Homo sapiens: one gene and its partners. Changing the gene in region 1 together with any one later gene gives a genetic interaction. Each region holds a gene or a part of one and is shown in the gene's direction. Other genes may lie near its edges.

Region 1 (4,081 bases):
CCATGATCACGTTCATGGCTGTTGGTAGCATTTGGTTCCTTATGGACGCTTGTGCTGAGGGTCTCATTGCCTTGCTGACTGTTGGCTGGAGGACACCCTCAGTTCCTTTCCCTCTGGATCTCTCCAGCATCTTAGCTTGCTTTGTCAAGACACGTAGGCTGAGAAGGCGAGAGACAGGCTCTGCTGGCAAAACAGAAGTCACAATCTCTCATAGCCTAATCGCAGAATGACATCCCATTCATTTGCCATTTTCTATTTGTTAGAATCAAGTCATCAGGCCAAGCGCAGTGGCTCATGCCTGTAATCCCAGCACTTTGGGAGGCCAAGGTAAGAGGATCACCTGAGGTCAGGAGTTCAAGACCAGCCTGGCCAACATGGTGAAACCCCGTCTCTACTAAAAACACAAAAATTAGCCGGCATAGTGGCACACGCCTATAATCCCAGCTACTCGGGAGGCTGAGGCAGGAGAATCGCTTGAACACGGGAGTCGGAAGTTGCAGTGAGCCAAGATCGCGCCATTGCACTCCAGCCTGAGTGACAAGAGCGAGACTCTGTCTCAAAAAAAACCTTTTTTTTTTTTTTAGAGATGGGGTCTCACTATGCTGCCCAGGCTGGCCTTGAACTCCTGGACTCAAGCGATCCTCCCGCCTCGGTCTCTTAAAGTGCTGAGATTACAAGTGTGAGCCACTGCGCCCTGCCAAGATTTGGTTTTTAACTTACGCGTTACCTCCTATACTTATTTTTTCATGGTTTGAACATGTAACATCTACTTTCTTAGCAATTTTGCAGTATGCAATGCATTGTTACGAGCTGTAGCCACCATGATGTACAGTCGATCTCTTGGACTTACTCCTCCTGCCTATCAACAGAGATTTGTTGAAGGGATGAATCTGCTTCTTCAGCCGTCGGTAAGGGGATCAGCAGCGAGGACGCTGAGAGAGGAGCCGCCTCCGTTGGAAATCCCTTCCCATCCACCTCCAAGCCTCTTTCCAAGCGGGATTCAGCACCAGGCGCCCCTGGACAGCTCTGGAAACCCAACCCTGCCGGAACCGTTCCTCGCCAATCCGGGTTTCCCGCCGGGGCCGCTTGGTGGCTGCGCCCGCCGCTCAGCGGGAGGAAACCCCTTTCCTGTGCCGGTAGGAGAGGTGGAGTCGCATATGAGTGGCAGGTTTCGCAGCCAATAGTATGGAAAGTTCTGCCAGCGGGTCTCGGGGAGGCCAATGGGCAGGGGCGTGGGCGGGGCGTGGACCAGCCGCGCCGAGCGGGGCCTCTCCGGGCCGCGTCTGTGGGGTCGAGACTGCGCGGCCGTTGGGCGTGCAGCGGCGCCAGTCGGCGGACGAGGGGCCCCCGGGAGGTAGGTGCGGGCAGAGAGAGGACCTGGGGCGGCGGGGCGGGGCGGCGCTGAGCGGCCGGGGGTCTGTTGGACTCTACCCGCACGTTAGCCGAGGCCCGTCTCCGGTGCCCGGTAGCGCGAGGCACACAGAAGGCGCTCAATAAGTGCTGATTGAATGAATGAGCCCGTGCCCTCCTCATCCCGGCCCGAGCAGCCTCCGGTTTGAGAGCGTGCAGGCCACCCTCACCTTCACTGTACAGACTGAGGTATCCAGATGCCGGACAGGTCTTTATTGGGCGCCTACTGTGTGCCTGGGTGGCTCTGCGCTGGGTGCAGCTGGCCCTGAGCAAGACAGACAGCCTGGTCCCGCCCAGCTCACCGCCGGGGGGGAGGGACGACTTTAAATGACTTAAAATAATGTAATTCCTAGCTCCCTCTGTAGCACAAAATAAAAGAAAATAACACCAGGGAAGGGGGCGGGGAGAGCTCTGAGTGGAGACATCTGAGCAGTGACCCGAAGACCTGAATGCAGTGAGGTAGCGGGGCCATGAGGCGCTTGGGGCTGATGGTGGGGGAGAAAACCCAGTTGGGGAAAACTCAAGGACAGGGGAGGAGCTGAGATTCCTCCTAAGAACGGTGACATTTTGGGGTCCAGGGTGAAACCGACTTCACTTTGGCCCATTGCATCAGGTAAAATGCGGCCCTTATCAGTGGCCACACGCTTCCCCTCGTCCATGTGTTCAGCCAGCGGTTTTTGAGTATCTGTTCTGCAGCAGGCCTTCCGGCGGGTACAGGGATATGGTTTAGGGCAGGAGTCAGCCAGGGGCAGAGAGGGAGGCCCTTTTTTTTTTTTTTTTTTTTTTTTTGAGACGGAGTCTTGCTCTGCAGCCCAGGCTGGAGTACAATGGCGCGATCTCGGCTCACTGCAAGCTCCACCTCCTGGGTTGAAGCAATTCTCCTGCCTCAGCCTCCCGAGTAACTGGGATTACAGGCACGTACCACCATGCCCAGCTAATTTTTTTTTTTTTTGAGACAGAGTCTTACTCTGTCACCCAGGCTGGAGTGCAATGGCTTGATCTTGGCTCACTGCAACCTCCACCTCCTGGGTTCAAGTGATTCTCCTGCCTCAGCCTCCCAAGTAGCTGGGATTACAGGTGCCCACTACCACACCCAGCTAATTTTTGTATTTTTAGTAGAGACAGTGTTTCACTGTGTTGGCCAGGCTGGTCTTGAACTCTCGACCTCAGGTGCTGGTCTCGAACTCTCGACCTCAGGTGATCTGCCCACCTCAGCCTCCCAAAGTGCTGAGATTACAGGTGTGAGCCACCACTCCCAACCGAGGGAGGCCCTTTTGAGGGGTCCTGGATGCAGAGAAGCAAGAAAGAAGAAGGAGGCCTCGCTGGAAGGTCAGGGGAAAGAGAGCAGTGTTCCAGGTGGAGAGAGGAGAACCCATGCAGAGGTCCTGAGGCACGAGCAAGCTTGGCACAGAAAGGACCAGTGAGGGCCGAGGCGAGGCAGGAGCTTGTCATGCAGAGCTTCAGCCTCAGGGTACAGAGTTTAGACTTTATTTCGGGGCATGGGGAAGCCATGGACCACCACCATCCAATAGCATGTTCTGCAGTGATGAGAGTGTTCCCTTTGCTGTCAAATACGGTAACCACAGAAGTCAAGTAGGCTTGTGTGACTACTGAGCGCTTGAAATATGGCCAGGGAGACTGAGGAGCGGAATTTTGTATTTTATTTAGTTTTTTTTTTTTTTTTTTTTTGAGATGGAGTTTTGCTCTTGTTGCCCAGCCTGGAGTGCGGTGGTGCCATCTTGGCTCACTGCAACCTCTGCCTCCTGGGTTCAAGCGATTCTCTTGCCTCAGCCTCCAGAGTAGCTGGGATTACAGGTGCCTGCCACCACGGCCGGCTAATTTTTGTATTTTTGGTAGAGACGGCGTTTCACCATGTTGTCCAGGCTGGTCTCGAATTCCTGACCTCAGGTGATCCACCCACCTCGGCCTCCCAAAGTTCTGGGATTGCAGGTGTGAGCCACTACACCCAGCCTGGATTTTTTTTAATTTTGATGAACTTTTTTCTTTTTTTGAGACAGTGTATTAGTCAGGGTTCTCTAGAGGGACAGAACTAATGGAATAGTTATATATATAAAGGGAAGTTTATTAAGTATTAATTGCACACGATTACAGGGTCTCACAATACATTGTCTGCAGATTGAGGAGCAAAGAGAGCCAGTCCGAGTTCCAAAACTGAAGAACTGGCCAGGTGCAGTGGCTCACGCCTATAATCCTAGCACTTTGGGAGGCCGAGGCAGGCGGATCACGAGGTCAGGAGTTCGAGACCAGCCTGGCCAACATGATGAAACCTCGTCTCTACTACAAATACAAAAAAAATTAGCTGGGAGTGGTGGCGCGTGTCTGTAATCCCAGCTACTAGGCAGGAGAATTGCTTGAATCCAGGAAGCGGAGGTTGCAGTGAGCGGAGATTGCACCATTGCACTCCAGCCTGGCAACAGAGCGAGACTCTGTCTAAAAAAAAAAAAAGAAAAAAGAAAGAAAGCTAATGCAGTGCCCCTGATGTTCACAGTTGCTGGACTGAGACATGAGCCTCCAACTGTGTGGTTGGGCTCGGTAGCACATCGTGGGACTTGGGTGTGCGCCCACAGATGGTTTGGCCCTGCAGTGACCAGAGCAGCCCAAGCCGCCACCATGGTGAAATTGCTAGTGGCCAAAATCCTGTGCATGGTGG
Region 2 (3,500 bases), on another chromosome or scaffold:
GTGATCCTAGTTCACTGCGGCCTCAAACTCTTGGGCTCAAGTGATCCTCCCACCTCAGCCTCCTGAGTAGTTAGGACTATAGGTGCATGTCACTACACCTGGCTAAGATAGAGTCTCTCTATGTTGTCCAGGCTGGTCTTGAACTCCTGGGTTCAAGTGATTTTCCTGCCTTGGTCTCCCAAGATGCTAGGATTACAGGCATAAGCCACCATGCCCAGCCGACATACTGTTTATCATCTTTCAGTTTGTATTGTTAAATTCTCTGTATTTGTTATATGTTATCATTCAAAACTGAAACTAACCCTTTCCCCTGAACTATTCTTGGGCCATTATTTTCTGCCTCTCCTCTCCTCTGAGTGTCCCGCTCACCGACCATGCCTTTCTTTCTCATTTCTCTTAATGTGTATATGTGAGAGTAAATGATATTCTGGTGATGTTCATGGTCTATGTGTGTGTTGCTCTTGGAGAGAAGAAAGGACAGAGAAATTTATCCAATTTTTCAGATTTTTTTCACTGTGCTATTCATAAATAAGCCTGTCTTGCTGCCAACAGGTTCTGGCTTCTTTTTCAGGATCATCTAGAACAAGGACTCCTGATACCAGTGTAGACATGGTATTCTTTGATGATTGAGAACGTAAATGTGTTATACGGGATACATTGGTTGTTTTATATGAACTATTATTACCAATATCTTTTTCATAAATTGCTTGTACTGCAATTATGGATTAAAAAATTTGTAAAGTATCAATGTCACAAGTTTTAGATTATAAGCTAAAGTGTTTGTTTTAAAATAAAAATATGACTTTTATGCAATTAGGGCTGCTGAAATTCTTTACTATTTCGCCCTGAGACAAGCTCACAAATACAAGATAAATAAATTTCTCTCATCATCACTTTACACGGCACTGACAGAAGCCAGAAGGAATTTGGGACTGTTTCAACATCATGATGCTATCACAGGAACTGCAAAAGACTGGGTGGTTGTGGATTATGGTACCAGGTAATCTAATTATAGAAAAATCATCTTTAAAAAAATCATTAAAATTATGGGTAATAAGATTATATCTTTTGGTGAAGTTGTTAGTGTATATCAAACCACATTAACAATGATATCCCTCATAAGTATTACTGTATCAAAACAGCACTGATATTCAAATATTAAGAAATCTGTTGACAGAGTCCCAGCTGCACCAACTTTTTATTGCAATGCATTTCTGCAAATAGGGTAGTAAAATATTATTACTACTGTTTAAAGCTGATCCTATTTTCTTCTAAATAACAGTGTGGAGACTGGAGTTATCTTCTTGACCAAGGACTTGGCATCAAATAAAACATAGTTATAATGTAGAGAGATAAAGATTCCTACTTCATTGTATGTCAGTTTAATCTCATCCTATTTCATATCCAATTGTTCTTGTATACTTCTTTTTTTTTTTTTAAGAGGCATATTGACATAATAAGCTGAGAAGCATAGCCAGGAAGGAAAAAGACCTATAAACCTTATCATATGTGGATGATATAAGCCATTGGGAATGAGAAAGGATGACCTGGGTGTTGGTATCAAAGCCATCTTTAACTCATTGAAGGGCTCTCAGATGGGCAAGGGAGTAGAAGCTAAGTTATTTCTATATTAAAGACTTTGAAACAATGAGTATAGGCATGGTCTGAGATAACAGAGGACTTGGCAAACAGAGCTTCCTAATAAGGGGGAAGAAATCTTACCTTTTGTAGTAGGGAGTTCTCTATCCTCACGCCAGCCTTTGGATGACCATTCATTCATTAGGATCAGTGCAGGGGGCATTCCTAGATTGGGGAAGGAGTTTTGACTATTTTATTTACTGTAGTTTAGACTATTCTTCCTGATACTGTTTATCAGCAGTGTTGTGCTTTGATAACATTTTAAAGTCATTTAAAATATACTGTGATTTTCTTAAAGAATAGATTTTAAAAGTGAATATCCTTAGTACTACTCCTTGATGAGAAAAGCGTATACAACACATAAAATCAATGTTAAAAAATTGACTCACGACTTATATTACTAATTGTAGTAAATGTTAATTAAATTTTTAGTTACAATATTTTGACTGGCTTTCTAGAAATTGGGGGAAAAAGATATTCTTGGGTTTTCATTAGTTGATTTCAGTCCTTAAAAAATGCATTCAAAGTAGTATCTTGAATATCTTCTCCATTTTTTAATGGCAAATATATATGACACCCACCTGTCGAGGTTGATCTGGGGTTAAAGTAGAAAACCCTCATTAGATGATAAAGATGGTATTTCTCCCACAGAAACCATTTTTGAAAGTAAGGTCAGATCCTCCTTTTTTCCTTCTTACCTGCTCCTGGCCTGCTTGGTTTGTTGAGAGTTTAAAAGTGAGACTGCTTAGAATCAGACCAGGGTAGAGCTCCTAAGAGGACATAGAAAAGTCATTTTCCTACACCGCCCACTTGCTATCTCTGGCTGTCATATCGAAAGAGATTTGCTTATAGGTCATTGAGCTTTGGCTACAGAAGATTTTTTGTATCTTGACCTGTCTGGAAGAGCTATCATTGGTTCCTCCATATGTTTTGTGTTGCTTTTAGCTTATAAAAACTTCCCCGTGTAGAATTGCGTGTTAGAGAAAAAAAGGTAGTAAGTCTCAAACTGTACTTGGCATTTGTAAATTTGCTATGTTAGTACTTCACAGTTCATTGAAAAGTCATAAACAATTACCAAGTCATTAGCACAGACATTTTAAGGAGGAAATTTCAAAACATAAGTTAGAGAATTATTAACAAAGAGGTAGTTAGTATTGGGTGTTCTCTTGAACTTGGACTGATGACTACTATTCATTCAAATTTGGCAGAAATATCACTGTGAACAAGTTTATGAATTAGGGGTGCATTTGGCTGCGAGTAATAGCAACCAGAAACAGAATAAATCCTGTCCTGCTTATTTTTATGTCATATGAAAAAAATCTGTAGACAACTGGTTCTGGTATGGCAGCTCTGCAGTGTCATCAGGCATTCAGGCCCTTCTTTCTCCTCTGCCATAGTAGGGGGAATCTGAGAGCATGCTGTCAACAATAGATCGAATGTGTATATAGTTACAAACTGGAAAGCAAGAATACATCATGGCATATTTGGAGATTAATTCTAATCATGGCATGAAAAAAATGAATTAGATTGGGACAATGTTTGTAATAGTCAGCTTAAAAGTATTAATAGATAATGTGGCTTATGTAGAAGGGAAGAAGAAATGGTAATGAGGTCATTTAGAGAAATGTTTTAGAATTCCGCTAATTATTCCTAACTTGTAATTAAGGTAGGTGGGAGAAAACGGAACACAGGGTGAGCGTGAGGGTCCTAAAATGTAGACAAACTATATAGTGGCAGACATGCTAACATCTCCTTAATACAACAACCATAACAGCAAACTAAGAAACTGTGATTCCCAAGTGATTTTTCCCGAACCGTATTCCGTATTAATAGGATAAGTGTATGTTTGGAAATTAGAGGCC
Region 3 (4,189 bases), on another chromosome or scaffold:
TGAATTCCTGTTTCTAGAGGACCCGCACCCACGTGGCTCTGTGCATCCGCAGCAACTTGGTCTTTCTTCCTTTGCTGAGTTTGGTTAAGGGAAAGGGCCGATTATTGAGTGGGCTCAGTTCACAGGTGCCTGAAATTCCTACTTAGCAATGTTCCTTTCCAGCTGATTCCGCCTCCGAGAGCCTTAGGAAAAAATGCTAACAGTTAGGAGCGAAGCGTCCTTAATTGCTCAGTCCAATTATCTAGATGGGTCCAGGTTCGGTTTCGATTCAGAGATAAGGACCAGGGGGCGGGGACGCTTCCAGGTGAGCCCCTGGTTAGGCTTGCCTCCCCGCGGAGCGCACGCGGGTCTCGCTGGCTGGACTGGGCCTTTCAAGACCAGGTAACTTCTCCATCCGGTATCGCCAGGCTTACCTGGGGGCCTCAGAATTGTGTCAGCTGCGTCTCTGAGTCACCTTGGAACCCCTCGAAGGAGCGCGGGGCTAGGAGGGCGCATCGGTGGGCCCGGGGACCCCGCTGCTAGGTGTGGTTGGCGCCAAGGCCGCCTCTGGCCGGCGGAGCCCTGCAGTGTCCGGAGGGTGCGGTCAGAGTCCGGCCCTTTAGGCCTTGCCTCGGTATCCGCCTTGCCCCTTGGGCCGCGGCACGGGTTCGGGCCGAGCGCCCGGCATCTTGCGTTTCTGGCTTCCTGAGACGGGCGTGGGACCTCGAGGAAACCACTCTGCATGACCCCACGAAGAGAACTAAGGACCACCCCCCACCCTTCCTGTCCTGGACGGCTTCATAAGCCAGAGGATCCAGTGGCAGTACCAAGCAGGGCACCACTCTGGGTCGTGAGCACCTAAGAGGTGGAGCAAAGGTCAGACCCCAGGGTGGCCCAGGCCTCCCTCCCCCGCCTCCCCGGCGGGGCCATTCCTCACCCGCCCCAGCACTGGAGGGGGCGGCCGGGGTCGGTCTAGTTCCGGTTACAAACTGGACAGAAAAGGCCACTGGAGTCTCGCTAGGCGATGCGCCTAGTCCCCTAGCCTCAGACGAACCGCAAGAGGGGCCACCCACAACTGGAGGGGCGGAGGCTGGAGCTGAGTTTCATTAGTGTTTTTGGAGCTGCCAGGCATTTCCAGGGGGGTCGCCTTCCTAGAGGCCCCCTTTCCCCAGCTTAACCCTCGGCTTTGCAGGAGGGTGCGTGGGGGCTGGAGGGTCCCTGGAAGCCGCAGGGAGCGCGGGCCCGGGTGGGTCCTGGTACCGGGTGGGGAGAGCGGAACCCTCCCAAAACTTGGGGCGCGGGGCGGGGCCGTCGGGCGGTGACGTGAGGGGCGGGGCCGGGCCCCATTGGCGGGCGGGCAGGGGAGGGGCGGGGCCGGGCGCCCGCGGCGGCTGCTGCGCCTGGAACCGGAGCCTGGAGTGAGGCGCAGCGGCAGCGGCAGCAGCGGCAACAAGTGCCGGAGGCTAGCAGAGCCAAGCCGGAGCAGTCCCTGCCGCCGACACCGCCGGGCCGCCCGTCCGGGGCGCCGCGCATGGAGCGTGAGCTGCGGCGGTCGCCGGGCTGAGCCGCGCGGAGCGGCCGGGACGTGGATGTGGCCGCGATCTCCCGCCCTTGCCCCCGCCCCGCCGAGCTGGAGCTGCTCCCGGACAAGGTAGGGCCCGGGCGCCGAGCACCCCCGCCGGCTCCCTCCCCGCTGCCCTCTCACCGCCAGGCCCCTCTACCAGTCCCCTTCCGCCTCCCTGCTTCCCGGCCCCACCTTCCGGACACCCTGCTACCCCCGCCCGGTTCCTCGCCGGTTCCGGCTTCGTACCCGCGCCCCGGTGGAGGAAGCCGTCCCTAGGTGGCTCCTGCCGCATTTAAGCCTCCCTTACCTTCCCGCCGTCCCAGCCACCCAACCTCAGCCCAGAGGGAGAGGAGAGGGACACCGCCCGCTGCGGGGCTTTGGAACCTCCCAACCCATTCCGTGCCCACCTCGCCCTGGAGCCCGGGGACCTTCCCCCTCCTCGCTGCACCCCAACTTCCGGGGGATCCGGCGCCGGGGCGATGCGGGCTTTGGCAAGGGGCATCTGGGGCCGGGCCTCCTCATCCGGGGCGCGCGGGCATTTCGGGGAGGGGGGCGCGCGTGATTCCTCGCTCGCACCCCCGCACCCCACCCTCGCACTGCGCCGGCCTCCCGTGCCGCATGGGGAGATCAGGTGTTTTGTGAGCCAAAGAGCCGCCGGCAGCCGCTCCCCACCCCCCACCCCCAACCTCTGCCACTTCTGTCTCCGGCTCCCCCAAAACTGGTTTCTGCCAAACTTAGGGAAAACCTTTCGCTTTGACCTTTTAAAAAAAATATTCCACACTGTTTGCGTTGAATGATTAACCAGGCTGCTAGCCCGAGTCGTGGGGGTGGGGTGGGGCGGGGTGGGGTGGGTGCTGCCAGGCCAGGGAGCGCCTGAAGCCGGACTCTACGAGACACCCCTCGTGGGAAGGTGGGCGTGGGGGGCCCTGCCGGGGCTGCGGGCGCGGGACTGGCGGCTACTCCAGCACGGCAGGCGGACCCTTCTGGAGGCAATAAACCGAGTCACCCGGTTAATTTCCAGGCCACGGTATTTGAAACTCGGGGCTGGGGAGCCGCAGAACTCCCTGTACCCCCATCAAGTAGAGGAGCCGTCGGGAGACTCCCCACAAGTGTCACAGCGTCAAAGCTCATCTTTAAAAATATGTACATTTATAACCTGGGTTGGCGAGGCGGCGCTCTTCTGCCCAAAACGTAGGGGTGGTTAGTTTGTAGAGTGGGCTTAGCTCACAGGTGCCTGAGCTGTATCCCCGTGGCCGCCTCAGCCACCCCAACTTCTCAGAAAGATTGTTTAGAACAATTAAACTATATTCTTTTGCCCTTCTCTTGTTGGAACCCTACCGTAATATCCGATAGCGAAGCCAGTTGGTGAATATAGAATTCTACTTGTTAAAACAAATTCTTCCGGTATAATTATTTGTGCCTCTGGAGGTGGTAAACGAGGTGGCCGACAGGGCCGGGACTGGGAGTGAAAAGGCGGGGACCCTGGCCGAGCCAGTCCCGGGGCTCCGGTGCCGGCTTATAGTCGCACCCATGCGGATCTGACAGCTGACCCGGAGGGAGGACCGGCAGGGCAGGGCAGGGCGGTCACTTCCCATTGTCCTAACTCCTGCTCCTGGTTCTTTTGAGTAGAGGGTGGTTAAGCCTGGAGGAATTTGGGAGAGTTTTACTCGGAGCCCATGCGCTCTTAAACCAGATTAGATTTTAAGAACACAGAAGTGAAGGAGCCCCATAGGGCTGTACTTGAGTAATTTGAGTAATCCTTTTCCTCCCTGCTCAGACTTTACAAATGTGTTTATCATTAGATCTTCTGTTTGAAACTACTTTTTTAGTTCGGAATATTGCTTTTTCTCCCTACAGCAAGGGTTCACTGTTTCTCATTTAGTTTTTGTGCAGGCGGCATTTGTATGATGAAGGCCTAATTCTCTGTGAAACTGACCAGTTCTCACCCTTGCCATTCATTAGACTTGATTCTGCCACATTTAATTCAGTGATCTTGGGCAAGTTATTCTTCACCTGAGCCTCATTTTACACATCTGGTTTTGGGGATGGTGGTGTTTGCTCTGCAAGATTATTTCTGAGGACAAATAGGATGTTTGCCAAACTCCTAGCACTGCACCAGGAGAGCTAAGAAGTGCTTAATAAATGGTGGTCATTGCTGTAATCAATAGAGAAGTTCCTCCTGGCATCGACTTCCCCTTACCAAAAACAGTAACCCTGTGGTAGCCTTTTAGATTTCCCTGTCTGAGACTGAAATCAGCCACATTTGGCAGATGCACATCAGAAGGTTCTTAAAACCTAAGTAGTATTTTGAGGAAAATAAGCATGATTTGCTTGTTGTTCAAAAATTATGAATTTTTTTCTGGGCTTCTGGTGAAGGGCTGAATATATGAAGGTTTGTAGTTTTGAAAATTTTCTTGTTTTAAAGAAAAGTCATGTTTTAGGTTTCTGATAAACTAAAGTTGTGCTAAAAATAGGAAAGTAGAACTGATAATTCATAGTTGATTTTGACTATACTGTTCAGATATGTGGTTTTTTTTAAAAAAAATAGTTGCATTAGTGAGGCATCGTTGGTATGTTCTGAAGAGAAATATGCAGGGCTTTTTCAGCTGATGCAGGGATAAAAGAAAAGGTGAATCTTCTGTTTCT
Region 4 (3,500 bases), on another chromosome or scaffold:
AGTGATATGTCATGACAACTAGTTAATGACCAATTACCATGTGCATTTGCCATATGTTAGTAAACTTTGAAAGTAGCTATTCATCCTATTTGGATGATTGGAAATTCTTTTTTATAAGCCAACTATGAAAATAAAACCTGACTCACATTCCCAGAGCCTAATAAATTTAGGGCATTTTGTAAAATAAATGAATATATCATTTTCAGATCTCTGTGTCTTATTTCTCTTTACTTTTTCTTAGATGTACTGTATATCAGTGTTTTGGAGGAAACTCTAGGTTTTGCTGTAGAAAGGAGCAGGAAGTGAGAGTGAGGCGAGCCCAGGACTGCAAGCGCCAGTAATCCTCATGGTTTCTCTCTTCCTCAGCAGCCTGGCAGCAGACGCCAGGACAGGACTGAAAGGGTTTACCCAGAGCTGTGACTGATACATGGCAAAAAACAAAGTGGGGGTGGACACCAAGAGCATTTTGATGGGGTCTACCTTAGAAAGAGAGGAAAGCAAGAATTCCACAAGCCATTAAGACCTGGCTCCAACCTGTCCTTCCAGCCTTCTCTCCCACCAACCTTCCTTTCCTCCATTCTGCAGTGTAACAGCTGCCTCTGGTTCCTGGCCAGCCCCTCTGCTCGTGTGTTCTCCCTTGCCCAGATTCTCATCATTTTTTCCTCACCAACTCGTACTTGCCCTTCAAGAATCAACTCAGGAGTCTCTTCCTTGAAGAAGTCTTCTGTGATCCATCCCCACTACGCTGGATTGTGTGTCCCAGCTTTAGATGCTCAGAGAACTCTTCACACATTTATCTCGGCATTCATCATGTGTGATTGGAACTATTTATGCTTAGTTCTTGTTCTGTCATTGCACTATTAGGTCTTTGAGAAAAAGTGATTGATTATCATAACCATGCTTGTAACCCAATGCCATGTATAGTCCTAGCAAATAGTAGGCATGCACTAAATGTGCATCTAAACTAAAAGTGTAGGATTTTAGCTATCAGAAAGGGAATTTATTAGGAGAATAACGAACTTTATTCTTTTGAATTACCACATCTTTCTTGAAGTGTTAAGTGGCTCTTCAGAAATAAACTGTACCCAAGAGTACTGCCATGTCTCAGGAGTCACTTTATGTGTATTTGTATGTATGTATGTTTATAACTTTTTTAAAAGGCCTAGTTTTTTAAAAAAGCATTTCTCCAAGAAAGGCCATGAAGCAGTAATTTCTGAAGCTCATGGCTTTCACCTTTCCAGATTTTTATAACATAATTTTGTTGAGATTCTTGATCATAGGTTATATAGAGTACAGAATGAGTTAGCACCTTAGGTAATATGCTTAGAAAAAGATAAAATAGTGTGAAGATACACGTAAGAAAGGAAGTCTGGTAAATGCAGGAAGATTTGGAGAGGGATGAAGTGAGTGTATAATTAGTGAATCTTTGAAATTTATCTTCTATCCACATAAAATTTTGTATATAATGTGAATGTCCAAAATTCCTTGGTCTCTTAGGCTGAAATTAAAATGTTGAAGAGCTTTATGTGGCATTTGGGCATGGTGGGAGTGTTTTGGTCAGATTTTCTTTTATATTCTATGTGGAATGGTTATGCATCTATATAGCACCTGTATTTTCCAAAAGATTTGTGTGTTCACCAACAGCAAGTACTCAGCAGCTTTTTTCTAAATTAAGTCAACAGTAATTTTCAATTTGGAGATAGGAGACAAACCCTAAAACTGGTAGCCAAAGAAGACAGTGCTTGGTTTTATAATATCTAGAGTGGACTATTAGCTAGGATGCCTTTTTTTAAAAGCTGTCTATTTCATGTCTGCTATTTAGATAGTGAAAAACGGAGTTAATCTGACCCATAACTCTTCGACGTCATCTCTTCTTTAGTGGTATTGGAAGGAACTGGCCCTGGGCCTCTGGAGGCAGCAGTATTCTGGCAGAATTTGGAACCCTGCATTTGGAGTTTATGCACTTGAGCCACTTATCAGGAAACCCCATCTTTGCTGAAAAGGTGAGATTCTTCAATGTGCCTTGGCCTGCAAAGCAACACTTATGAGAAACAGTATTGTCTCTGAGAAGGTTTAGGAATTTTTGAAGTGGAAATAATAACCAAATTTGTTATAGCTCTTTCTGAAGTTTTGCAACATGCAGCATTTCATTTAGCCAAACTGTAAACCTACAGCCTTTCCAGTGCACCACTCTAGTTCAGGATGTGAGGGCACAGCTTCCACCTCTGGTTCCCTTTACCTTAAGTTAGTTACTTAACTCATCTGAAGTTTGTTTCCTTATCTAAAAATATTTAGTAATAAATGCACTGCATGAGCCAACTATGTGAAAGACAGACTGAAAGTGTCGTACAAATGTGATGTTGCAGCTGAATTGGTCCCTCGTTTTCCGAAAGCAAACCAAATATTTGGATAAATTCATGTTCCCCCCATCACTCTACTTTTATTTTCAACCTGCTTTTTGGCTTCCCTTTACAGTAAAATTGCTTGAAAGAGTCGTCCCTGTTGTCTACTTTTCAAGTCTCTTGAACCTGCTCCAGTAGGACTTTTCCCCCAGCCACACCTGTCACAGTGACCAGTGAGCACAACAGTGCCAAAGCCACTTACCATTCTCCCCTTCATCTTCCTTGCCCTCTTAGCATTCGACACAGTCAGTTCTTCGTTCCTGAGATACACTTCGCGCTTGGCATGTAATACTCTCCCAGTTTGTCTCCTCTTTTGCTGGATGCTCCTTCTGTCTTTTTTGTGTCCTCCTCAACACCCCACCCTCTAAATATTGGAAAGCCCTAGCACTCAATCCTGTGCCTCTGCTTGTTGATATTCACTCCCTACATTGTTGCATCTAGTCTCTGGGCTTTACATACCATCTCTATACTCTAGACTCCAAGTTTATTATTTCAGTCCCAACCTGTCCCCTGAACTCCAGACTCTATATCTGTTTATTAAACATCTCCACTAAGAGGCCCGATAGACAAGTCCCACTTAAAATGCCTCGGACTTAACGCCTAGACGTGCTTCTCCAGTCTTTGCTATCTTGGTAAATGACATCTCACTGTACCCAGTGGTCTCCTCCTGGTTCTTCTTCTTGGTAAACCCCAGGCCCAGTCCACTAAGAAATCCTTTGGGTGTCTCACTGCCTCTACTGCTGTCCTGATCTGGGATCCATCAGGTCACCTGGTGTACTGTATGTACACCATACAGTAGCCACCTGACCACCCCTTCCTCACCCCCTCAGCCTTCTCATGACACTCAGAGTAAAATATGCCCTTATTGTGGCCTGTGGGGCCTGGGTGACCTGGGCCCTGGCTCTCCTCTCCTCTACCTGCTGACATTCTCCCCTTTGTCTCCTCACCTCTGGCCTCAGTAGCATTGCAAACCTGCTGTCTCCTCAGGGCCTTTGTACTTGCTCCTCTCTCTGTTCCGAGTGCTCTTCCTCCACATTTCCACGTGGCCTACTCCCTCACTTCTTTAATATTCTGCTCAAACACCTCCGCCTTGCCAGG
Region 5 (3,500 bases), on another chromosome or scaffold:
GTAAGGGTGAATGTGGGTTTAAAAAAAGAAATACTCTCTCAACATCAAAAGAAAAGGACATAGGAATAGATGGTTTAATACTTTGTGAAAAGGAAATACATACACCTTTCCACAGCTAATTTAAAAGAGGAAGAATAAATGTAAAGTTGACAATAATACAGATAAGAAAGTAATAGGCTGGGTGTGGTGGCTCATGCCTGTAATCCTAACCCTTTGGAAGGCTGAGGCCAGAGGATTGCTTGAAGCTATGAGTTCTAGACCAACCTGGGCAACTTGGCATTTTTTTTATTTAGCTGGGCATGGTGGTACACTCCTGCATTCCTAGCTCCTTGGGAGAGAGGCAGGAAAATCGCTTGAGTCCACAAGTTCAAGGCTGCAGTGAGCCATGATTGCACCACTGTACTCCAGCCTGGTGACAGAGAGAGACCTTGTATTTTAAACAAAAAAAAAAAAAAAAAAAAAAAGAAGAAGAAGAAGAAGAAGGTAATAGCTTGGGATAGCATCTGAATTTCTTAATTAGGAATGAAAAGTTTGCTTTTATATTCTTAGGTTGGTTACACACAGAAAAGTTCATAGCCTCTTTCATCCTCACTGAGGAAAACAATTTTCCATTCTTTTCTAGATGTTTTAGTTCATTTTGAAAATTAGTTTAGAATGGTATGTCTCTTATTATTCTAAACTCTTATCTTTGATAATTTTAGAGAAAAGAGACAGGATACTTAAGGTTCTGGTTTCTGTTGCACTTTTCAGTTAATTGATACATGTTCAATTTTATAAGTAATATATTACATTCTATTATAAAGAACCTCCTTGAACCCAGAAGTTAGAAGTTACAGTGAGCTATGATCATACCACTGTACTCCAGCCTGGGTGACAGAGCAAGACCCTGTCTCTTAAAATTATTTAAAAAAAAAAAAAGGGACCCCTGCCTTTCGGGGTCCAATTACTATAAAGAACCTCAAGATTTTCGATATCAACTGAAAAAAATGAAGGAAAAATAAATCATTGCAGTATACGTTCTTTTTATTTGTATTGAAATCGTTAACATGTTCTGTTGTTGATCTTTGGAGGGTACATCATCCAGTTCCTATCCAAAGGAACAATCACAGCCATGGTTTTTCTTTTAAAAGATGCTAGAGAATTTTCTCCGTCTCTGTCTCCACCCCTCTCAGTGTGTCTACGTTTGGGTCAAGAGCATATTTGCAACCAATGGATACACGCCAGTACTTATACTGCCTAAAGCCAAAGAATGAATTTGCAGAAAAAGCAGGCATCATTAAGGGAGTAACAGTAATTGGAAAATTGGATATAGTATGGAAAACAAATCTAGGTGAAAGGGGAAGGTTACAGACCAGCCAACTTCAAAGAATGGTGAGTCTGGAAAAAACTTCGCTGGGGTTTTGGTGTGTGAAAGACAGGTAGTTAGAACAACTTAATTTTTTCTACATCCAGCAGTAAAAAATTGGAGCACTATAAAAGGCATTACTACTACTGGAGCAGAAAAGATTAATAGTGTCACTGATAGGTAGGTCGAAGACTGGTGTTGCCATGAATGAAAAATGGTCAAATGTTAATTTATCCTTAATACACGTGTTCTTTATCACACAGAAATTAAAATAACTGTTATTAAGTGTCTCTCCTTTGGTAACACATGCTCACTCTTCTTCTGATTTCCAAACACATTAAGGTTTTCTATTTTGCAATGTCCTGAAACTCTTGGACTTACTTCATTCACCTACTCAGTTCCTACCATTTTTAAGATGTTAAAAATCTGAGGCATCTCCTCAGAAGGTGAGTTCTACTAAAGTTATCTTATAAGCATTGGTTGCATATTTTACCTAATTTCTTCTCTGAGAGTAGGGATAGCTACCAGGCTTCTTTTTCTTATGCTTGTAAGAATATACGACAGGATTCTCCTCCCTTTATGCTGAATATTACCTGTTTTGACATATTCCAAATTTTACTTTTCTTTCCACTGTTTGAGGCAATAATTTTTAAAAAATGATGATGATGATTCCTGGGCCCACTTAAATATAGCCGTTAGTTATTTTTCTGCCATGGCCTGTTCCAAGCCTTCGTGTTGTTATAATCCATCCTCATCTGTGCGTCTTGTAAAAAGTCATGATTTTCTTCCTGGCTCCTTTCAACATCATCCCCCTCTTTCTTTAGAAAATAACTTTACCTATTTAGAGTTACACACATAGAAGCTACAGCATCTGGAAAGTGTCCCTTCAACTCCCTGAAATTTCTTTACTGACTACTTACCTGTGAGATTCATCTTAACTCTACTGAACATGGAATAATTATATAACAAAAACAGTCCAGGTCTGCCAGGCTATTCCACAGGCAGTAGCTGCAAAAGAATTTAAAATGAGAGACAAGTAAAGTGAATCAGAAGTATTTTCTTAGAACATCAGCTTGGAAACCCAACAGCTGTTGAGTAAATGTGCTGCTGTGGTGCCTTCATTAAAATGGAAAGGTTTTGTGATAGATATACATTAACTGTGTTGCTTGTTTTCTTAGGCTCCAGGTTATGGAGATGTTAGGTTGTCTTTGGAGGCAATACCAGATACCGTAAACCTTGAAGAACCTTTTCATATTACCTGTAAAATAACAAACTGCAGGTAATGCCACTGTTTGTAGATGGATGTCCTTTCTACCTCACCTGCCTAGAAGATAATTTTAAAATCTTTTTGTTACTATCTCCTTTTAAGTTTTCCTCTTGACATACAGCCTTCTCTGATGTTGATATTGAGTACTGTAAAATTCTTCATCTGGTAGCAGTATAATTACATATTTTTAAGGGCCTATTGTATTATGCATCTTCTGTATTTTATTTCATTCATTTGTCACACCCTATGAGGTAGGTATTCATTGTTTATACTTCCTTCACCAAAACATGAACTAATAGGTTCTTATGTATTAATATATTATGAATTGAAGTAGCAAGATTTTTTGAGGCATGCTTGTACTTGAGCTGTATCTTGAGTATTAAGAAACCAAACATTGCTTATGGATTTAATGTAAGGGGAGATCATTGATTCGAAAACTGGGTTTTGACAGTAAAGAGAGAGCATAATCTGAACTGTCAGGAAGCAAAGAGCACAGGGCTTTGAAACCAGAAAAAAATAGAATTAAGTTCCAGTCCTATGCCCTCTGCTCCTACTTGTATTACCACTTGGTTTGTATTATTATTTGGGGTATTTTTATAATATTGCAGTGATGAATCCTAGTCCTCTTAGTGTGAATGTATAATCCTTTTAATTCCATATTTATTCTTTTTGGTATTAGAAAGATAGGAAATATTTATCCTTCAAAATTACAGAAATACCCACTTCCTCTATGAAGCTACCTAGACTTTCCAAAGCACAGGTATTCATGCCTTCTCCATCATAGAAAATTTTAACTTAGTTTTTTAGTGACACTCATATATTGTGTATTTAGTGACACTCATATATTACTGTAAGTATTAGTCTCTTTCTCACTGGACTGGAATTATT
Region 6 (3,500 bases), on another chromosome or scaffold:
GTATATTAAAGTGTATTGAATGCTAGTGAGAGGTAGATTAAAATGAAAGAAAAATATTTATTGCATAAGGTATCATTTTGTTATTAGTGACCTTGATAAAAGGAATTTCTTTGAAGTGGTACAGATAGAAACCAGATAGGACTGGGTGAAAGTATGACTGAACCCAGCATTGCCAAATTTACGTGTCAAACTGGGCTTCTCCTGCGTATCAGGGACACAGGCAGATTCAAAATAATAACAGTAGTAAAGGAAAGGAGGAAAATAGGAAACTATCTTTAAGGATCCTGAATGAGAGGGGAGAAAATGGAAAGGGTATATGTCATCAACACCTAGAAGCTTTCCTATGTAGGGAGGCCGACAAATGGAATGGCAGCTGAAGAGGGGGATAGGACTAGTCAAATGATGGTTTTTTAAAATAGATGGGAGATAGTTGGAACCTGTTTTTGTGTGTAAGTAGGAATGATCCAGTGGAGAAGAGGAAATTGGTATAGGAGAGTAGAAGCCAAAAGAGAAGGGATGTAGAGCCTGAATGTGGGACTGGCCTTTTCTAGAAGGAGAAGCATCCTTCTGTTGAAATGGGGTGAAAGAGAAGATGGGTACAGATGCCAGTTCTGTTGTAGATTGGGCAGTTGGAAATTGACCGAAGTTCTTGCCTGGTAGCCTCCATTTTCTCGATGAAATATAAGGTAAAGATAGCTGAGAGACTTGTACAGAGAGGGGAATTTAAGGGTCAATTAAGGGTATGGAATAGTCATCTTGGAGATAAGGAAATTGACTGAAGTTCTTGCCTGGTAGCCTCCATTTTCTCGATGAAATATAAGGTAAAGATAGCTGAGAGGCTTGTACAGAGAGGGGAATTTAAGGGTCAGTTAAAGGTATGGAATAGTCATCTTGGAGATAAGGAAAATGTCATTACAAAGCCTTGACAATGAGTCCAGTTATATGAAGTTTGTAAGAAATTAGCTACTAATTAAGTTTTCTTTGAATGAAGGAAAGAATGCTTATTCTATCACTTTCAGATTTTGTCACTCAGATCCTTTGCTAGCAGTTGCCCATATTATGAATCAGAAAAAAAAATTCCACAAGCTTTTTCATTTCTATCATGATTGTGATAGGATATTCCCTTTGTGGTAGCTATCAGGTCATCTGATGCCACCAGATAAGGATTCAGCTGCTTTCTTTAAAGGCATCCTCAGTTCCTTCTGGACCTTGTGTATAAGTTGTTCCTTTTAGTTTGAGATTACTTTCTTTAGTCCAGGAGTCCTTTATAAATATTATGTTGATCATTTTACAAAAGAAATGGATATCCCATCCATCTTATTCTTGAGACTTTTGATTATAGCGTCTGGTTCTACTTTGTCCTTCTAGTTCCCCTACTTTCTCCTTCCTCATACTTCCACCTTTATTCCCTGACCTTTTTTGGCATCTGGAGGGATAAGTTTTTTTCCTACTTTCTCCATTCATCTCTTTCTAGGCTATTGTATAGTGTTCTTTTTTCTCTCCTTAATTGAAGTCTCCTGGACAATTTCCTCATAGCCCTCACTCCATTTTATTAGCTTGGCTTGTATACACATTTGTCACTTTCTAACTATATTGTGAACTCTTTAGCACAGGGAACACCTTTGTATCCATATTATCTAATATCATCTTTATATGGTAGCTATTGCTGAGTAAATGAAATAGATATTCTTTCTATATATATATTTTCTTTTTTTCTATAATTAGTGTCTTTGCCTATTGCACTTTTTTCCTTCCTATTGCTTGGTATTTGGCTTTATGTTTAAAAAATGGTTTTCTAGGTCTTTCTGATTTTTCCTTTTGAATGACTCCCTGAGAATATGAAGGATTTCTTACTCCTTTCTCCTTTACATTCTGCCACTCTGGGCTTCATTCTCTTTCTGATAGTGTCATTCAAGAATCTACATATATATCTAAAGGCAGCCTTTATGACTACTACAATGTTAACATAGATATTTCCTGACTCCATGAAGTTAACTGCTAAATTCATAGTCATTTTTAGTAGTAAATCCTTGAAACATCCTCCAAGTTGTAACCACCTAAAATTAAACTATATAATTGAGCTTTTAGGAGTTTTGAAATCTTCCATCCAGTATAATTGTCTGGTTTTTGTTGTTGTTTTTAAATCTTTAAGTGGTATATATTGTTCAGAATTATATTAAAGAGGACTTTCTTTAAACCTTTCATAATGTAAATATCTTTAAAGTCAAGAAATATTTATTTGGATTAGAATATATTATCTGTGCACTTGACTAAACTTGTGGATTCAACTAATATTTACTTTTTATTACCATTAATATAAAATAATAAAATATATGTATATGTGTCTAGTTACATACATAGAGTCAATGTCTTTGTTTTCTTTATGCAGAGATTAAATGCATAATGGTTTTCCATTTCAGGGAAGTAAGCAATGGCATAGAAAAAAAAGGAAAGAAAAAATCTGTAGGTCGTCCACCTGGCCCATATACAAGAAAAATGATTCAAAAAACTGCTGAGCCACTTTTGGTAAGAGGATATGTTGGTATATGTTCTCAAGAAGAAGGATGCATGAAATAACTGAGAAGCTAGTATTTTTTTCAGCTTACTTTAGAGACATGCTTTAAGTATATATTTTTATTTTCCAGGATAAGGAATCAATTTCAGAGAATCCTACTTTGGATTTACCTTGTTCTATAGGGTAAATAGAAAGTTATTTTCTCCCTTTCTAGGTTTTGTCTTTTGAGTAGATATTAATATTTGTTTGTTATATAATATAGTCGTTACACAATTTAAATTCTTTTGTCTCAGGAGAACTGAGGGAACTGCACATTCATCCAATACCTCAGATGTGGATTTCACGGGTGCTTCCAGTGCAAAAGAAACTACCTCGTCTAGCATTTCCAGGCATTATGGGTAGATATTTTACATTCTTATTTTTTTTACTTTTTTTACTCTAGATTTCTTTTCTTTGTAAAGTGTTGATTGAATAATTTTTTAGCAATTGAAAGTGATGTAAGTTGTGTCTATCAGCTTTTTGAGAGGTAATCCATATGTAGATCCCAATAGTTGTTAATATTCATTTGAAATATTTTTGCTTTCTAGAGTACAAATGTATTTTTCATGTTTGTGTGGAAATTTGCTGTGTACACAGAGAAAAAGTATACCATTGTTTAGAAGCTGTGCTCGTTAGGCTTTTTAATGCCTCTGCTACACAAGTGTTCTTTGCTTTAGGAAGATATGATTTTTTTTTTTCTTTTTAAGAGACAGATTCTCACTCTGTTGCCCAGGCTAGAGTGCGGTGGCACAATCATGGCTCATTGCAGCCTCAAACTCCTGGCTTCAAACAATCCTCCCATGTCGGCCTCTCTAGTGGCTGGGACTACAGATTGTGCCACCACACCTAAGTAATGCTTTTTTATTTTTTGTAGAGATGGTTTTGCTAATTTGCCCAGGCTGGTCTTGAACTCCCGATCTCAAGTGATCCTCCTGTGTTGGCCTTC
Region 7 (2,850 bases), on another chromosome or scaffold:
GGCCGCCGCCCCTTTTACCTTGGCTTCCAAGGTGCCTGAGTCATGATGTCAAAAAGAACGAAATCCTGGCCATGGCGCCCACGTGGAGGCCCTGGGTGGACCGTGGCTGCCTGGCCAGGCCTGTCTTGGCAACAGGGCAGTAAGGCCTTGTGTGGCACCTGGGGTGGGCAGGGCTTCCCCAGGGCAGCTCCCTCCCCGTGCCCGGTGTGTAGCAGGTCCTCGGGCGGTGTGTGGGGGCCGGGTTGGAGGGCCTGGTCCAGGCAGCTCCGCTGTTCCATGCCAAGTGCCCTCGCGTGGCCTCCCCTCCCAGGGTACCAGGGCCGAGGCAGCGCTGGGCTCCCACGTTGGCTGCCCGTGCAGCTGCAGGCTGAGGGCAGGGCCTGGGATCTGGGGCTGAAGAGACCCTCTGATTCCAGGACCACCTGGTGTGCTTCCTGCCAGGGACGCTGGCTCTGGGCGTCTACCACGGCCTGCCCGCCAGCCACATGGAGCTGGCCCAGGAGCTCATGGAGACTTGTTACCAGATGAACCGGCAGATGGAGACGGGGCTGAGTCCCGAGATCGTGCACTTCAACCTTTACCCCCAGCCGGGCCGTCGGGACGTGGAGGTCAAGGTGGGCCTGGGCCTGGGTCAGGGTCCATCAGGAGGAGGGTGCTGGCAGGGCTGGCCTTGCCCTGAGCTCTGCTCCGCCCACAGCCAGCAGACAGGCACAACCTGCTGCGGCCAGAGACCGTGGAGAGCCTGTTCTACCTGTACCGCGTCACAGGGGACCGCAAATACCAGGACTGGGGCTGGGAGATTCTGCAGAGCTTCAGCCGATTCACACGGGTGAGCACCTGTCCTCGCCCCGCGTGGTCACGGCCACCGGGCCACAGGCACGGCTGGGCTGTGGGGCTCAGGCTGGCTCCGCTCTTGGTGGTGGCTGTGACCTGGATCCGGGAGGGGCGGGCTTGCCGCAGCCTCGGGGTGGCCACACTGCAGCTTGGGGGCCCTGGCATCCCCATCCCCACTGAGCTTCATGGTTGTGGGACCCAGAGTACTTGGAGGGGCTGGGCACCCCTCATTTTCATTTCTCAGGGCCTGTCTAGGGAGGGTCTCTGCTGTGGGCCCAGCATCCCCCCAGTTTAGGAGGCACACGCACCCATGACTGGGGCACCATCCCCACTGTGGACCAGGCCCTGTTTTAGGTCACGCCCTCCACGCCAGAGTGTCACTTCCTGGCTCTGCTGTGATCTTGGCCTGAGGCCCCCGCTGCCTCCGCTCCCACCGTCTGCCCTGTGCCCTGTGCCCTGTGCGGCAACTGTGAGGCCCCCTGAGCCCAGGTTCTGGGGGAGGCGGTTTCTGTCGTGGTCACTTGAGGGTTGTTGGCATTTCCAGGTGGGCTCCGGTGGAACCACACGGCTCGCCTGGGGGTGGCCATCATCCAGGCGCCCTCCACCCTGAGCTTGCGCTGGGGGCCACATTCACCATGGGGTGGAGAGCGCTTCGGTGATGAGGCTGAGGGGGGTGCAGGGTGCCCCCCGTGTGGTGACGAGGCCCTGGCTGCTGCACAGGTCCCCTCGGGTGGCTATTCTTCCATCAACAATGTCCAGGATCCTCAGAAGCCCGAGCCTAGGGACAAGATGGAGAGCTTCTTCCTGGGGGAGACGCTCAAGTATCTGTTCTTGCTCTTCTCCGATGACCCAAACCTGCTCAGCCTGGATGCCTACGTGTTCAACACCGAAGCCCACCCTCTGCCTATCTGGACCCCTGCCTAGGGTGGATGGCTGCTGGTGTGGGGACTTCGGGTGGGCAGAGGCACCTTGCTGGGTCTGTGGCATTTTCCAAGGGCCCACGTAGCACCGGCAACCGCCAAGTGGCCCAGGCTCTGAACTGGCTCTGGGCTCCTCCTCGTCTCTGCTTTAATCAGGACACCGTGAGGACAAGTGAGGCCGTCAGTCTTGGTGTGATGCGGGGTGGGCTGGGCCGCTGGAGCCTCCGCCTGCTTCCTCCAGAAGACACGAATCATGACTCACGATTGCTGAAGCCTGAGCAGGTCTCTGTGGGCCGACCAGAGGGGGGCTTCGAGGTGGTCCCTGGTACTGGGGTGACCGAGTGGACAGCCCAGGGTGCAGCTCTGCCCGGGCTCGTGAAGCCTCAGATGTCCCCAATCCAAGGGTCTGGAGGGGCTGCCGTGACTCCAGAGGCCTGAGGCTCCAGGGCTGGCTCTGGTGTTTACAAGCTGGACTCAGGGATCCTCCTGGCCGCCCCGCAGGGGGCTTGGAGGGCTGGACGGCAAGTCCGTCTAGCTCACGGGCCCCTCCAGTGGAATGGGTCTTTTCGGTGGAGATAAAAGTTGATTTGCTCTAACCGCGATGTCGCCTGTGTCTTTAGGGATCTCCATGACTGGAAAGTCTGGGCGGACGTTGGGGAGAAGGTATTCTTCAAGTCACGTCTCAGAATTCGGTTTGCTGAGACTGGACTCTAGCTGTCCCCTGCTGGTGGGCAGGGAGAGGCCACGGGGAAGCTCCGTGTCCCTGGCCCCACGGGGCAGATGCTTGGCGGGAGGCATCCTTGCGCCTGCGTTTCACACAGGGCCTGTTTCCCTGCAGGGCTGGCACTGAGGCGCACAGCTGAGGGATACACGGGCCCTCAGGTCAGGCAGCTCCCAGCAGCCTGGCATGGCTATGGCCCCGAGCCCTGGGCTGTGGTGGCAGAGTTGTCCTCATCATCACTCTACTGCTGTCCCTATCCCAGGGCTGACCCTGGGCCTTGGCTGGGTTCCCCCCGACCCTGAACCAGGTGACCTCTTAGGACCACGCCCCCTCGCTCTCCCCTGTGAAAAATCCATCACCTTCACTTCCGGAAGA

What was found.
Region 2: changes in SLC39A3 (region 1) and MAN2A1 together harm fitness less than expected from each alone (positive genetic interaction), as found in Homo sapiens cells (one large-scale study listed by BioGRID).
Region 3: changes in SLC39A3 (region 1) and B3GNT2 together harm fitness less than expected from each alone (positive genetic interaction), as found in Homo sapiens cells (one large-scale study listed by BioGRID).
Region 4: changes in SLC39A3 (region 1) and MAN1A1 together harm fitness more than expected from each alone (negative genetic interaction), as found in Homo sapiens cells (one large-scale study listed by BioGRID).
Region 5: changes in SLC39A3 (region 1) and TRAPPC13 together harm fitness more than expected from each alone (negative genetic interaction), as found in Homo sapiens cells (one large-scale study listed by BioGRID).
Region 6: changes in SLC39A3 (region 1) and MTF2 together harm fitness more than expected from each alone (negative genetic interaction), as found in Homo sapiens cells (one large-scale study listed by BioGRID).
Region 7: changes in SLC39A3 (region 1) and MAN1B1 together harm fitness less than expected from each alone (positive genetic interaction), as found in Homo sapiens cells (one large-scale study listed by BioGRID).

The regions. Positions count from the first base shown.
Region 1 is NC_000019.10:2,737,218-2,741,298, reverse strand, and holds the start of SLC39A3 (zinc transporter ZIP3), read left to right. Parts: upstream 1-1,281; 5' UTR 1,282-1,354; intron 1,355-3,919; 5' UTR 3,920-4,041; coding exon 4,042-4,081. UniProt on the Homo sapiens protein: Transporter for the divalent cation Zn(2+). Mediates the influx of Zn(2+) into cells from extracellular space. Controls Zn(2+) accumulation into dentate gyrus granule cells in the hippocampus.
Region 2 is NC_000005.10:109,783,927-109,787,426, forward strand, and holds part of MAN2A1 (alpha-mannosidase 2), read left to right. Parts: intron 1-817; coding exon 818-1,000; intron 1,001-3,500. UniProt on the Homo sapiens protein: Catalyzes the first committed step in the biosynthesis of complex N-glycans. It controls conversion of high mannose to complex N-glycans; the final hydrolytic step in the N-glycan maturation pathway.
Region 3 is NC_000002.12:62,194,726-62,198,914, forward strand, and holds the start of B3GNT2 (N-acetyllactosaminide beta-1,3-N-acetylglucosaminyltransferase 2), read left to right. Parts: upstream 1-1,389; 5' UTR 1,390-1,630; intron 1,631-4,189. UniProt on the Homo sapiens protein: Beta-1,3-N-acetylglucosaminyltransferase involved in the synthesis of poly-N-acetyllactosamine. Catalyzes the initiation and elongation of poly-N-acetyllactosamine chains. Shows a marked preference for Gal(beta1-4)Glc(NAc)-based acceptors.
Region 4 is NC_000006.12:119,203,262-119,206,761, reverse strand, and holds part of MAN1A1 (mannosyl-oligosaccharide 1,2-alpha-mannosidase IA), read left to right. Parts: intron 1-1,879; coding exon 1,880-2,003; intron 2,004-3,500. UniProt on the Homo sapiens protein: Involved in the maturation of Asn-linked oligosaccharides. Progressively trim alpha-1,2-linked mannose residues from Man(9)GlcNAc(2) to produce Man(5)GlcNAc(2).
Region 5 is NC_000005.10:65,659,527-65,663,026, forward strand, and holds part of TRAPPC13 (trafficking protein particle complex subunit 13), read left to right. Parts: intron 1-1,172; coding exon 1,173-1,371; intron 1,372-2,523; coding exon 2,524-2,624; intron 2,625-3,500.
Region 6 is NC_000001.11:93,131,283-93,134,782, forward strand, and holds part of MTF2 (metal-response element-binding transcription factor 2), read left to right. Parts: intron 1-2,420; coding exon 2,421-2,526; intron 2,527-2,645; coding exon 2,646-2,698; intron 2,699-2,808; coding exon 2,809-2,913; intron 2,914-3,500. UniProt on the Homo sapiens protein: Polycomb group (PcG) protein that specifically binds histone H3 trimethylated at 'Lys-36' (H3K36me3) and recruits the PRC2 complex, thus enhancing PRC2 H3K27me3 methylation activity.
Region 7 is NC_000009.12:137,106,834-137,109,683, forward strand, and holds the end of MAN1B1 (endoplasmic reticulum mannosyl-oligosaccharide 1,2-alpha-mannosidase), read left to right. Parts: intron 1-416; coding exon 417-614; intron 615-697; coding exon 698-829; coding exon of another isoform or gene 830-1,129; exon of another isoform or gene 1,130-1,545; intron 1,546-1,554; coding exon 1,555-1,758; 3' UTR 1,759-2,350; downstream 2,351-2,850. UniProt on the Homo sapiens protein: Involved in glycoprotein quality control targeting of misfolded glycoproteins for degradation.